4 linked regions of the Homo sapiens genome follow. The protein of the gene in region 4 purifies or fractionates together with the protein of the main gene of each other region. This does not show direct contact. Each region holds a gene or a part of one and is shown on either strand. Other genes may lie near its edges.

Region 1 (3,005 bases), on a different chromosome or scaffold from region 4:
CCATTCTAAATCTTTATTCCACACCTGCTCTGCCAGTAGGCCCTTCCTTATGTAATATTTTCTTTCCTTTGCTTCCAGTCTCTTATTTCATACTCTCTTATGACTTTTGGCCCAGCAATGCTGTCTTACCTTCCTGTTGATGTGTGTCATTCCTTAGTGACCAACTCCTTTTCATCTGAGGACAACTCTAATGTTGCTTTCCAGTACCATTCCTCCTTCCCTTTCTGAATTTGTCCTAGAGAAAAACTCCCTCCCACCATTTGTACAGCATTCCCACAGACTCAACACGATTTTCCAGGTAGGTGTGTATTGCTTATTTTGGCACTCACTGCCCAGCTTTCCTCGATGTCCTACACACTATGCTGCACCCATTGCTTCTCAGTTCAGTCCAGACCTGCATAGACTGCTGCAGTTAGCCTGTACAGATCCATCTCTTTTGCCTTCTTTCTAATCTTTTGCCCTAGTGACATACCCTTTTCTTTAATTATTATTCTAACAAAGCTTTCTGGAAATACCTCATAAGTGTCTCTTACTTTGTCATGGTCTCCCCCAGGTGGTTGAGACCTGGCAGCTCCCTCCCACCTTTCCCACTCTGCCCTTTGCCACACTGCATTTTCTGTACCCTGGCCCAACTCACATGTCCCTCTCCTGTCTTAGCTGCCAGCATCTATCTTTTCTCTAATTCGCTGGGTTCTTTTCATACAAATCTCCTTAGTGGTTGACTCTCATTTTCAGTGAATCCTCACAAGACAAGCTTAATTTCAGAGAACAGTTTTAATGCAGATCTTCAGGGCATTCTTTCCTGATTCTCTTTGGTATTTGCCTTGCTTTGTCTGTGTAACTCTCATATTTACATTATGGCAGTGCATTCAGTATTTTCTTGCCATGGAAAGGCCCCCGCATCTTGCCTCCTCGCCCCATTTCGTCATCCTCTCCAGCAGCTTCGACAGATTACTGCCTAGACTTCCTTAGATCCCTGTAACCTCTCATTGTATCAATCAAACCATTTAAGTAAAAAAATTCCCACTAAGGTTTCAGGAACATTATCTCTACTAACACCATTCCTATTTACTTCCTTAATCTCTTTCTCTGTATCAGGTCCTTATATGTAAGTGTCTTCTGTCTTTACCTCCACATAAAACTCAGCCCCTGTGCCCAGTCTGTGATCTGCCTTCATACCTGATGTTGTCTCTTTGTCCTCCTCATTTGCTGTAGCCTCTCTGCTTAATTGGAACCACACTGGGTTGCTATAATTAATGTCTCTCCTGACTCTTCATTCTAACTTGATCATGACCTTTTCCCCTACCATATTCTGTATCTCTTTCATGGTTTAAAAAAAATGCCTCACCTGACCTGTTCTGGCCTTGTGTTAACTTTCACTTCTTTCCCCTTCTCTCTGAAGAAAATCCTATCCTAATTAAACCACAGTCGTTCTTTTCTCAACCCCTAATGGCATTGAAATTGATTCTGCAGGCTTGATAGGTTCATTCTTTCCTATATGGGAAAACCCACTGCCATCGTCTGTTTTCAGCATATTCTGTTGAATCCATCTGCTCTCTGAATTCAGACCCATTCTTCATAGTCCCCACCAGTGGCTTAAATTAGGCACCTTATCTAGCTTATCTCTAACCTTTCAATCTCTTGACTGCCTCAGCTCACCAGAGCCTGTTGGAAAATCATTTGAAATACAAGGTATTTTACAATTTATTCCTAAACAAATTATCTTCTCAGCACCTAGGCATTAGCATGCCTCTTACTGTTTCCAGCTGCCCGGTGGACTTTCTGGCCTCTTTCCTTTTGCCTGTTTGTACATCTTCCTCTGCTTGCCAAAGCTCTTTTGCATCTTTTGAGAGCCAGTTAAACTATTATATCGTTTCACATTTTTTACAGTTTTCCCAGGCTATTTGTTAATCCCGCACCCTCACATGGCACTCTCTTAAAACTTAAAGGATCTATGGCATTGAGTTGTAAAGTCATAGATAGATCACACACACACACAGCCCACACACTTATTTAACTCCTAGACAGCTCCTAGAGACAGAGATCATGTCTCAGTCATCTTTTTATCCAAGTGTCTGGCACATAAGCTTATACCTTTACGTGTAATGTCAACATGTATTGACAGTCACTACATGTGTGGATGGATGAATGGATGGAATTTAAAGTCAAGACTGAGCAGATGAAAGTCTTATTACCCAATCTGTCGTATATGGTCTTCACATCTGAGCCTGTTCTTTCCTCTCCTTGCCTATCCCCCAAATAACTTTTTAACTCTCCCAATATCTAATATTTTTTGTACCTATAAGCTTTTTCCAGACCATAGACAAGATCCTAAATGCCTTTTCTTCATCCCTGCTTGCTAAATCCCCTCCTTCAAACATTTCAGAAAATACTGTCTTTACTTTTTATAAAGACTTCACTTTCCAAAAATGTACCCCCACCTCCATTTCTTATTACTTAACACCACTTGTGTGAAAACATACAACTGCCCACTTGCTTTTCCATTTAAGACACTGACTTTACCAATACTAGAAACTCATTACTGACCTACTCACTTTAGGCTGAAGGTTGACAGATAAAGCAAGTTCTCTCTGGTGATCTGTGGACCCGCCATCAGTCCACAATCTAAAGATAGTATTGAGATGCTGATGAGATTGGTCAATGTTAATCTGATGATCTGTATGCTTTTTACCACAGGTTTTTTTTTTGTTTTTTTTTTTGGTCAGGTCCTACAGCAGTGGTTCTCAAAATATTTATTTTTCAACATTTAGGCCCCTTTGATAGGCATGGCAAAAAGCCCCCAAAAGTACCTCTCTGCTGCTTTCTTCATACCAATAGAGAAACAGTCTGCCCATGTTATCATTTCTGTACTGCTGTAACCCACAGCGTGGAATAGACTTTACATTCATGCTTTGTGAGACTGCCTTCCTGACCCGCTTGTAGGCTGCTTTTGAGAACCACTACCCCAGACAACAGGGCATGTGTGTTTAACTGGAAAATGTGGA
Region 2 (4,128 bases), on a different chromosome or scaffold from region 4:
GGGCTGCTCGCCTGCCCCAGGCCCTGCCTTGGGCTCCGGCTGGTTCTGGACCTCAGTGTCTGCATTTGGTCCTGGGTCTCCGTTGTCCTCCGTGTCCCTCTCTGTTTGTGACAGTCTCTCTGGTTCTGCTGTGTCCCTGCTCTCTCTCTGACCTTGCTCTCCATGACCCTGTCTCTGAGTTGTTGCCTATTTCTGTCTTTTTGGGTCCTGGATGTGTCTTTTTCTCTCTGTCCCTGCCTCTGTCTCTCTGTCCCTGCTTCTCTCTCTGCCTCTGTGTCTCTGTCACTGTTTCTGTGTCCCTGGCTCTGTGTGTCCTTGACCTTGTGTATCTGTGTCCCTGTCTCTCTTCCCGTGTCCCTGTCTGTGTGTCCTTGACCTTTGTGTATCTGTGTCCCTGTCTCTCCATGTCCCTCTCTTCCTGTGTCCCTGTCTCTGTGTCCATCTCTGTCTCCCTGTGTCCCCTTGTCTCTCTCCAGGTGCCATTCAGTCCTTTGCTGGCTTCACTGACTACTTCACGGCAATGGCCCAGGAGGGCTGGTTCCCACTGCTGTGCGTGGGGCTGCGGGCGCAGTGGGAGGACCACCACCTACAAGATCTGCAGGACAGCTACGGCCAGGAGTGGGTGAGCCCTGCCCCGCCCCATCCCATCCCTGGGCTCCCTCCTTCCCAGGGCAACTTGCCTTGTGTGCGGCCCACTTGTTCCTCCACGTGTGACTGAGTTCAGCCAGAGCATCCCGGACCCCCAGACTCCCTGCCAGTTCGGGGGGGCAAGGGCCTTTCCCACCATCTCCAGCTCCAAACTCCTGCTTCTGATGATCGCAACTGCAGATGGGTGTCTCTGCCCTGACACTAATGCATCATCTCAGATGTGGAACCAGGCCCCTATTCTGCTATTTTCCCTACAGCATCACTCCCACAGGGTATTTGCACATGTGGTCTATTTTAATGAAGGTTTGGAGCACAGTGAGGCTAGATCTGGCCAGCAGATGTGTTTAGTTCACCTGTAGAGTTACATACAGACGAGGATACTTCCCTTAAACATTTACTATCATGGTTAAGGTAGACACTGAAGCCAGACTGCCTGGACTTATGGTCTGGTACTGCTTCTCACAAGCTGTGTAACCCTGGGCAGGTTGCTTTGCCTCTCTGTGCCTGTTTTCTCACCTGCAAAGTGGAGAGAATATCAAAGTCTACCTCAGTGGTTTTCAGTTTGCTCCCAGACCAGCAGCATCACCATCTCCTGGGAACATGTTTGCAGTGCAAATTCTCAGGCTCTATCCCAGCCCTCTGGGAGCCCTTGCTGGGATTCTCATGCATGTTCAAGTTCCAGCACCACTGATTTACCTCCTAGGGTTACCCAGCGGATTAAATGAGCTAATGCACGTGCAACACTCGGCACCTGGAGCAGTCAGTGATCCCCACAGTTAGCTGGTATTAGGAGTTGTGTTGCCAGGCATGGTGGCACATGCTTGTAATTCCAGCTACTTGGGAGGCTAAGGCAGGAGAATCTCCTGAACCTGGGATTCGGAAGTTGCAGTGAGCTGAGATTGCACCACTGCACTCCAGCCTGGGTGACAGAGCGAGATTCCATCTCAAAAAAAAAAGTAGCTGTGTTGAAGAAATGGGCTGCATAGTGGCTGCCCCCTTTAAATGGGGCATCTGCCCTCTTTTCCCAAAGGCCCGCGGTGACTGCCTCACCTATTTTTGCCATCTGCCTGGCCCCTGGAGTCACTGGACTTTGCAAATCCCATCTGAGGATTTCAATTCCCCTTTCCCAGGCCCTTTCTTTTGGGTGCCTCCCCCCTTTCACTATGAAAGCAGTCGGCCCAGCCTACAGTTTTCCCGGCCACTGTCATCCAAGCTCTGCTAGGCTGAGGTTTCTGGGCCCCACGTTCTGGGGTCCTGCACACCTGGCAGACCCTGCCTCTCTCCTTCCCCCCACCCCCACACTCTGATGCAAGGCAGAGAGAGCATTTAGGGGTTCACGGCCCTGGGACCCTATGCCCGGTGGGCTGCAGAGGCTCTCCGCCGGGACTCAGGCTGGACTCAGGCTGTTTCCGTTTGCCCCTGGCCTGCAGACATTCGGGCAGCGCCTGTACCAGCAGTACACCTGCTACACCGTGTTCTTCATCAGCATTGAGGTGTGCCAGATCGCCGATGTCCTCATCCGCAAGACGCGCCGTCTCTCTGCCTTCCAGCAAGGCTTCTTCAGGTGTCCCTGGCTGGCCCTCTTCCTGCCCTCCAACCCCTGGTCCCAACTCCCATCAGATCCTGACTGTGGTTTAGAACAGCCGGCAAATGCCAGCGGGTGCCAGTGCCAGATGGTGACATGCCAAAAAAACCTTTCTAACTGGCCAATAACTCCCCCCACGGCCCCCTCCACATTTCACTAAAGGGGTGGTGCTGAGAGGCCCGGGCCACTCCAGTGTTCAGTGTGTAGAACACCTCCCTGCTGCTGCTGACATCTGACCTACTTTGACCCACAGTATCCTGATTTCCATCACGTCCCCAATTCCTAATGGCCTGTCCCATTCTGCCCACCCCCAGGAATAAGATCCTGGTGATCGCCATCGTGTTCCAGGTCTGCATCGGCTGCTTCCTGTGCTACTGCCCCGGCATGCCCAACATCTTCAACTTCATGCCCATTCGGTGAGAGGCTGTGAGGGGCAAGGACAGGGAGGGGGCTGTAGGGCACAGGCCTGGGATGGCCTTCACCTTGCCATGTGCCTTCAGGTTCCAGTGGTGGCTGGTCCCCCTGCCCTACGGCATCCTCATCTTCGTCTATGATGAGATCCGGAAGCTTGGAGTTCGCTGTTGCCCAGGGAGTGAGTGTGGAGACTGGGAGCCTGGGGGCAGGGGACTGAAACGTTTGAGCAGCTGCACCCACCTTTGATCCTCAACACTTGGCCTCTAAGCCCTTGACCCTCCATAGCAACCAGCACTGACCTCTGAGCCCCTGGCCCTGCCTAAGTGGCACCCCCAGCACTGAGTCTCCTTTCTCCCTCTCTCTCCCAGGCTGGTGGGACCAGGAACTCTACTATTAGAGGGACGACTGCCTTCAAGCATCCCTGCAACTGCCACAGCAGGTGGGGGCAGGGCTCGTGGGACCCTCTGGACAGCCACCAAGATATCTGAGCAACCAAGAGTCCCAGCCCCACCAGTATCTGCTTCTGTAGCCCACGGCACCCCAAACTTGGAGGGACCTGCCCACTCCCCTCCCCCATTCCCAAGGTTCGCACCTCCTGGAGCAGCAGCGCCTGGGCAGTCCTCTGGGCTGGCCTCGGGAAAGCCGCCACCTGTGGTGGCGGTGGGGCTCTGACAGGGAGTACAGCTGACCGCTTCTGGAGGGTGTTTCTGTTCTTAGGACTCCAGTCCAGGCTGGACGGCTGCCTGAGGGCCCTTCGTTAAAGACACGCTTGTGTCCTGGGCGATGGTAATAAAACCAGCTCATGCTGACTGTGCTGTATCTGGTGCCAGGCACTGTCCTCAGCGTCTCTCATTAGTGCTTGTGATCTCCCACAGTCCTGTACATGGGGGCTGTTTATCCAGGGCTGCACCTCCAGTGCCTAGTACACAGCCTGGCACATAGTAGGTCCTCAATAAACCTGCCTTGGGGAAATGATTCCTATTCCTTTGCCCAGGGTCATGGCATCTAAACGCAAGCTGGGCCGTGGCGATAGGCACCCCCTACCACCTCTGGGCTTTCTCTGTTCTCAGCACCCTTCTCCCTCCTGGAGGCTCCCAGACACAAGGGGGCCCAAGTCATTTCCACATCAAGCATCCCCCACCCCCCAGCGGTGTCTCCTTTCTGAGCCTACCTGCTTACTCCTCTGTCCCGGCAATGGCCAGTTCCTGAACAACTCCTGGAGGTCCCCTCCTCACACCCCTCACCTGAAAGGTTAACCCCATCCCCCTACCTCCCATCTCTGCCGCTCCTTTCCCAGCCCCTCTGTTCACCTCTCTTCCTCTTTCTTATGTGGCTTTCTCTGGCTAGGGCCTGGGCTTCTCCTTCCTTGTGACCACAGCCCCCCAGTCCCCCATGGCTTCAGTTGTTTCTGCAGTGAGACCCACCTCTGTCCCCAGCTTCCCCCAGTGTTGGTGACCTACACTGGCCTCTTCATCACCCCC
Region 3 (3,182 bases), on a different chromosome or scaffold from region 4:
CGGCCTCCCAAACTGCTGGAATTACAGGCATGAGCCACCGCTCGGCCACCTCTGGAGTTCTGATTGTTCCCACAGAAGAGACAGATCTGACAAGTGGGGCTCCAAGGTCATGGCTGGTGGCTATGCTTTATGGTGAGTCTGGGCATCTCTGAGTCTGTGTTCTTTTTCCTTTTCTTCTCACCCTGTCCTCCTAGGCAGCAATCAGCATCTTTGGCATGGTTGGGGGACCGCTGCTGGGACTCTTCTGCCTTGGAATGTTCTTTCCATGTGCTAACCCTCCTGTGAGTGATGCATCTGGATCCACAGTCATGTGTAGCAGGATGGACCTGGGGGTTGGCAGGGCTGTCACCAGGAGAGCTGAGGACTGCCGTGAGGGCTGGCAGGACTGGCCTTGTGACAGGCCTGCACTGTGTCTCGGCAGGGTGCTGTTGTGGGCCTGTTGGCTGGGCTCGTCATGGCCTTCTGGATTGGCATCGGGAGCATCGTGACCAGCATGGGCTCCAGCATGCCACCCTCTCCCTCTAATGGGTCCAGCTTCTCCCTGCCCACCAATCTAACCGTTGCCACTGTGACCACACTGATGCCCTTGACTACCTTCTCCAAGTAAGGCAGGGCTTGCTATCTTCTTGTTTTCTCAAAGCCCTCCTTTGAGGGCTTTCACAGGGGTCTTGCTAAGGGATGGGCCACCAGAGGCCCCAGGGAAATGTTGGGTATTGGGTCCCAAGACCCTGGGACCATGCGGGCAAGTAGAGATTGGTGCCCAAGGAATGCCCTGCCAACGAATTGCTAATTGTTCTCACCTCTGCTCTTCCCAGGCCCACAGGGCTGCAGCGGTTCTATTCCTTGTCTTACTTATGGTACAGTGCTCACAACTCCACCACAGTGATTGTGGTGGGCCTGATTGTCAGTCTACTCACTGGTAAGGGTGTGGGATTGCGGTGCAGATGAGCACCGAGGGGTTAACAGAGGGCCCTAAGGGACTCTAGGGAGAAAGGCTCCTGCCCTCTGAGCTCTTGGGTGTCCGTAGCTGTCAGGCTTTTCTGCTGGGATGTAGGAGGTGGGTGGGGGCTGGGGTCTCTGGGGGCCAAGGGAGGACATGGGGCCCGCTGCTGTGGATGGTTCCACCCAGAGACTCAGAAGCACATTTCCATTCAGGGAGAATGCGAGGCCGGTCCCTGAACCCTGCAACCATTTACCCAGTGTTGCCAAAGCTCCTGTCCCTCCTTCCGTTGTCCTGTCAGAAGCGGCTCCACTGCAGGAGCTACGGCCAGGTAGTACCTGCTGTCCAAGTGACCCCTCCCTGCCCTTCTCCACAGATGCCACTGACTCTTCAGGTTCCCTTCTACCCCTTTTCTCTCCCCCTGCCCCGGGTGCCTCTCTCAGGATCAGCTAAGCCTAGGCTGTCCCACACGGCTGTCTCAGGTTCTACCCACAGGACTGCACTGGCTTGGTGGGCAGAAGGATCTCAGGGCTCAGAGGAGCTCAGCCCCAGCCTGGGCCAGTCAGCTCCCCTCCCCAGCCCACCCTGTGCTCCCTGCTGTGCTATGCCCTCCCTCTTTTCCCCCTGCTCTCCCTCCCGAACCCAGCCTTGCTGGGCTCCCTTCTGGCGGGGACCTTTTTTGTGTGAATCCTGTCAAGCACCCGTCATCCGTCTTCACCAGTTCCACCCCTTTGGCTCTGTGTTTGCAGGACCACCTCGACACTGGCCTGTTTCCTGAGAAGCCGAGGAATGGTGTGCTGGGGGACAGCAGAGACAAGGAGGCCATGGCCCTGGATGGCACAGCCTATCAGGGGAGCAGCTCCACCTGCATCCTCCAGGAGACCTCCCTGTGATGTTGACTCAGGACCCCGCCTCTGTCCTCACTGTGCCAGGCCATAGCCAGAGGCCACCCTGTAGTACAGGGATGAGTCTTGGTGTGTTCTGCAGGGACAGGCCTGGATGATCTAGCTCATACCAAAGGACCTTGTTCTGAGAGGTTCTTGCCTGCAGGAGAAGCTGTCACATCTCAAGCATGTGAGGCACCGTTTTTCTCGTCGCTTGCCAATCTGTTTTTTAAAGGATCAGGCTCGTAGGGAGCAGGATCATGCCAGAAATAGGGATGGAAGTGCATCCTCTGGGAAAAAGATAATGGCTTCTGATTCAACATAGCCATAGTCCTTTGAAGTAAGTGGCTAGAAACAGCACTCTGGTTATAATTGCCCCAGGGCCTGATTCAGGACTGACTCTCCACCATAAAACTGGAAGCTGCTTCCCCTGTAGTCCCCATTTCAGTACCAGTTCTGCCAGCCACAGTGAGCCCCTATTATTACTTTCAGATTGTCTGTGACACTCAAGCCCCTCTCATTTTTATCTGTCTACCTCCATTCTGAAGAGGGAGGTTTTGGTGTCCCTGGTCCTCTGGGAATAGAAGATCCATTTGTCTTTGTGTAGAGCAAGCACGTTTTCCACCTCACTGTCTCCATCCTCCACCTCTGAGATGGACACTTAAGAGACGGGGCAAATGTGGATCCAAGAAACCAGGGCCATGACCGGGTCCACTGTGGAGCAGCCATCTATCTACCTGACTCCTGAGCCAGGCTGCCGTGGTGTCATTTCTGTCATCCGTGCTCTGTTTCCTTTTGGAGTTTCTTCTCCACATTATCTTTGTTCCTGGGGAATAAAAACTACCATTGGACCTAGAATTTGGGCTCCTGTACTGTCTTCACCTGCTCTTGTCCACCCTACTGCATCCTCTGGTGAGGATAAGGAGTCCTATCCTATGTACAGGTCACCTTCCTGTGCTGAGGAGGGGGGCTGTGGCTTCAAGTCCCTGCTGTCCCTGTGTCTGCAGGGGACAGTGTTGTGCTCACCATGGTAGAAGATGCACACCCTCTCCTAGGGCTTCTCATCCCCTGGGGCTTACTTAGTCTGTCCCTTCTCCGGCCCCACTTTCCCTTTGCCAGAACCTTTTGCTCTCAGATTTTTACTTTTGGAACTGGAGGAAGAATGTTCCCATCTGATTTTAGAAACGGAACATTCTAGCTGGACTTTTATGGTCTTGTGAAGAACACTGTGCTCACACCCTCCCACACCTGGCCTCTGCCCCTGCCTGGCCCTGTTCAGCTGCCCACATCAGCTCTGCACCAGCTCTCCGGGGTCTCTTAACAGAGACCGGGTCCCAGGCATATCTGAATTCAGCCTC
Region 4 (3,440 bases):
GTGTCGCACCTCCTTCTTTTGTAGCCATTAAGGCAGGAACAACACTGTATCAACTTACAACAGCAGGAGAAGCTGTTTCCTGGAACTCAATATTTATTCTGATGATCTTGGCTGTTCTTTCTATTCTGCCAGCCATCTTCCAAAAAAAACTAAAGCAGAAATTTGAGTAAAAATAATCATCTGATTTTTAGTTTTGCTGTCATCACCATCTCAGGATTAACAGGTGCATCCATTTATGTTTTAAAATCACCTCTTCAGTAATTAAACAAGGAATTTGTAAAATAAAATTTCCTATCAGATAGTTAAAGTAATACATTTAAGTGACAAGGGGAGAAGAAAGTAAAAATGGAAATTGGTATACTGTGAAAAGTGCTATCAATAGTTAAGGTAGACATCTTAGACATCTTATAAATTATTATACCAAGGGTAGCTGTAGATAATAGTAGTGTGGTAGGAAATTGTTGATCCAGCTAATTCATTCAATTTAATTGAATATTTTTTATCTTTAATAACTAAAATAGATATTTTTAAATTCTAGATTTTTTAAAGTAGTGTTGCAGGTTTTGTTAATGTTAGGCTTTTTTCAGAGCATAAACTGGAAAACTTAAAAAGAGATTTACATTTTCTTCCTCTTTTTTTTTTTTTTTTTTTTTCTGTTTTGAGACGGAGTCTAGCTCTGCCGCCCAGGCTGGAGTGCAGTGGCGCGATCTCCACTCACTGCAAGCTCCACCTCCTGGGTTCACGCCATTCTCCTGTCTCAGCCTCCTGAGTAGCTGGGACTACAGGCGCCCGCCACCATGCCCAGCTAATTTTTTTGTATTTTTAGTAGAGACGGGGTTTCACCGTGTTAGCCAGGATGGTCTCGATCTCCTGACCTCGTGATCTGCCCGCCTTGGCCTCCCAAAGTGCTGGGATTACAGGCGTGAGCCACCGCGCCTGGCCCATTTTCTTCCTCTTTTGAGGTAATGGATTTGTTTGGAGATGGCATGTTAGTAGACGACTGAATATGGAAAGGATATCAAGTTATCTATTTTGTTAATTTTATTTTTGTTTTTTATCATCTAGATTTTTATCATGGATTAGTCTGAAATTTAAAGTTCTGGCCAGTCGGTTTTCTTTCATCTTGTAGTTTTTACAGTATTTCCACTGTGCATATGCAAAATGGGTATTACATAACTGTATCATATTTGGTATTGATAATTTTTTTTTTTTTTGAGACGGAGTCTTGCTGTTGCCCAGGCTGGAGTGGAGTGCGTGGTGTGATCTCGGCTCACTGCAAACTCCGCCTCCTGGGTTCAAGCGATTCTCCTGGCCCAGCCTCCTGAGTAGCTGGGATTACAGGTGTGTGCCACCGTGCCCAGCTAATTTTTGTGTTTTTAGTAGAGACGGGGTTTCACCATGTTGGCCGGGCTGGTCTTGAACTCCTGACCTCAGGCTATATGCCCACTTCCACCTCCCAAAGTGCTGGGATTACAGGCATGAGCCACTGTGCCCAGCCTGGTATTGATAATTTATATTCAGATAATTTGTTATGGCTCTTTAATATCCCACAAGGGGCTCTAAAAAGCAAACATTCAAGAGTATGTAGTTTTTAGACATTAAGTTAATTATTTTAAACAGTGACAGCAAAACACAAGTGATTAAATATAGTTTATTTGTTCCAATGACTAAATTTTACCTCATTTATTAATCTGGTCATTAAGGAATATATTTAATAATATTATGTAATTATTCTTTTTATGCATGATACACCTAGAAAAATGCCTTTTGTTTCTATTGATGGCTTTGTTGTTTGGAGCTACTTTTGATTACTTATTGCAGTTTCCCAATTTAGTCTTTACTTTATCTAACTCACAAAGTAAAATTAACTGATCACATGGCAACTACTGTATTTAAATAGTTCTGGAAAAATGAAAGTGCTTTTTGCTGCTTGGTAAATGGGTAATGCCCTTGATTCCTTGACTGTAGGACATAGCTGATCTAAAGTACTCTGTCAGTTTTACCTTCACCCATGACTGTTATTAGTTGTCAAAGTTGAAAAGTACTTTAGCTGTGAGAAATCCTTGTATGTTTTTATTATAAGAGGTATAATCATCCTCAAAGCCTGTTTTTATTACATGATGTGGACTGATTATTTTTTCTATCACAGTGTTAACAGATGGATTTTATTGTAAATACAAAGAAAACATATTGATTATTGTAGTATTCTTATGTCACCTGGCCTTTTGCGTGAGATTATTTATTATTTCTAGCAAGGCTTTCTTCCTTTCTTATTGCCCAGAGACTGACTGATACATCTTTTGTTATTTTTACACATAAATTAAACATAGCCTTTTTGGACAAATTCACTAAATATTAATGTATAAAATGTAATTGAGTAAATTTTTATCAGAATTTTAAAAATAAAAGAGCTTAGACTCAGTAGAACTCAGTAGAAGCTTCACTATTTACTCCAGCGTGTGTAAATTGTACTTACTCTATTCTCAGAGTATATTTACTGTCCTTACCATTGATTCTTTCCCTTTGCTAATTTTTTTTTTTGTTAATGGTAGCTGCGACTTTAGGTGGGGTATATTTTCTTCTCCTAAGAGAATAGACAGTTTTTCCAGATTCATCATCATTGACTGTCAAGAAAGGACCCTTCAGCAAGGCTGTACCCTCAATGCAGTTGATGGCCTGTCTTCACGGATTTACAGACTTGGCCTGATGCCCATGTAAATTCAAGCTTTGGCTTGTGGTAACAACCACAAGAAGACAAGCATCTGTGGTGCGGAGGCAAGCAGGCTAACTAGGAGTTGACAAGCTAAGAAAGTGAAACTGTTCTTTCTTAGTTAACTGTCTTTCTCTGGAGCTCTGTTATTTTGAGTATAATATTTCCATGACACTTAGTAAATGCAAGCTAAAATGTAATAATAATAAATTGTATTGGAGAAACCTAAATGTCACATTTGGGATTTATTTCATGGAAGTACTTACATTAAAAAACTCTGGCCGAGCAAGGTGGCTCACGCCTGTAATCCCAGCACTTTGGAAGGTCGAAGCAGGTGGATCACCTGCAGTCAGGAGTTCAAGACCAGCCTGGCCATCACAGTGAAACCCCGTCTCTACTAAACATATGAAAAATTAGCCAGGTGTGGTGGCACACGCCTATAGTCCTAGCTACTTGGGAGGCTGAGGCAGAAGAATTGCTTGAACCCAGAAGGTGGAGGTTGCCATGAGATGAAATTGTGCCACTGCATTCCAGCCTGGGCAACAGAGCCAGACTCTGTCTCAAAAAACTAAAAACAAACTCTTCGTTGAATAAAAGTATATTCTTAAATTTCGATGTACATTTTCACCACTAAGAACAATGAAATGGCCGGGCACGGTAGCTCACACCTGTAATCCTAGCACTTCCAGAGGCCAAGGTGGGTGGATCACCTGAGGTCAGGAGTTCGAGA

The links.
Region 1: the proteins of TMEM41B (region 4) and COPG2 purify together in Homo sapiens (affinity purification with mass spectrometry, with the first as the bait; one large-scale study listed by BioGRID). This does not show direct contact.
Region 2: the proteins of TMEM41B (region 4) and ATP4A purify together in Homo sapiens (affinity purification with mass spectrometry, with the first as the bait; one large-scale study listed by BioGRID). This does not show direct contact.
Region 3: the proteins of TMEM41B (region 4) and SLC5A6 purify together in Homo sapiens (affinity purification with mass spectrometry, with the first as the bait; one large-scale study listed by BioGRID). This does not show direct contact.

Annotation. Positions count from the first base shown.
Region 1 is NC_000007.14:130,508,744-130,511,748, reverse strand, and holds part of COPG2 (coatomer subunit gamma-2), read left to right. Parts: intron 1-3,005. UniProt on the Homo sapiens protein: The coatomer is a cytosolic protein complex that binds to dilysine motifs and reversibly associates with Golgi non-clathrin-coated vesicles, which further mediate biosynthetic protein transport from the ER, via the Golgi up to the trans Golgi network.
Region 2 is NC_000019.10:35,549,531-35,553,658, reverse strand, and holds the end of ATP4A (potassium-transporting ATPase alpha chain 1), read left to right. Parts: intron 1-476; coding exon 477-622; intron 623-2,078; coding exon 2,079-2,212; intron 2,213-2,547; coding exon 2,548-2,649; intron 2,650-2,733; coding exon 2,734-2,825; intron 2,826-3,015; coding exon 3,016-3,044; 3' UTR 3,045-3,628; downstream 3,629-4,128. UniProt on the Homo sapiens protein: The catalytic subunit of the gastric H(+)/K(+) ATPase pump which transports H(+) ions in exchange for K(+) ions across the apical membrane of parietal cells.
Region 3 is NC_000002.12:27,199,087-27,202,268, reverse strand, and holds the end of SLC5A6 (sodium-dependent multivitamin transporter), read left to right. Parts: intron 1-194; coding exon 195-281; intron 282-421; coding exon 422-603; intron 604-815; coding exon 816-919; intron 920-1,155; coding exon 1,156-1,271; intron 1,272-1,689; coding exon 1,690-1,833; coding exon of another isoform or gene 1,834-1,879; 3' UTR 1,880-2,682; downstream 2,683-3,182. UniProt on the Homo sapiens protein: Sodium-dependent multivitamin transporter that mediates the electrogenic transport of pantothenate, biotin, lipoate and iodide.
Region 4 is NC_000011.10:9,280,154-9,283,593, reverse strand, and holds the end of TMEM41B (transmembrane protein 41B), read left to right. Parts: coding exon 1-170; 3' UTR 171-2,940; downstream 2,941-3,440. UniProt on the Homo sapiens protein: Phospholipid scramblase involved in lipid homeostasis and membrane dynamics processes. Has phospholipid scramblase activity toward cholesterol and phosphatidylserine, as well as phosphatidylethanolamine and phosphatidylcholine.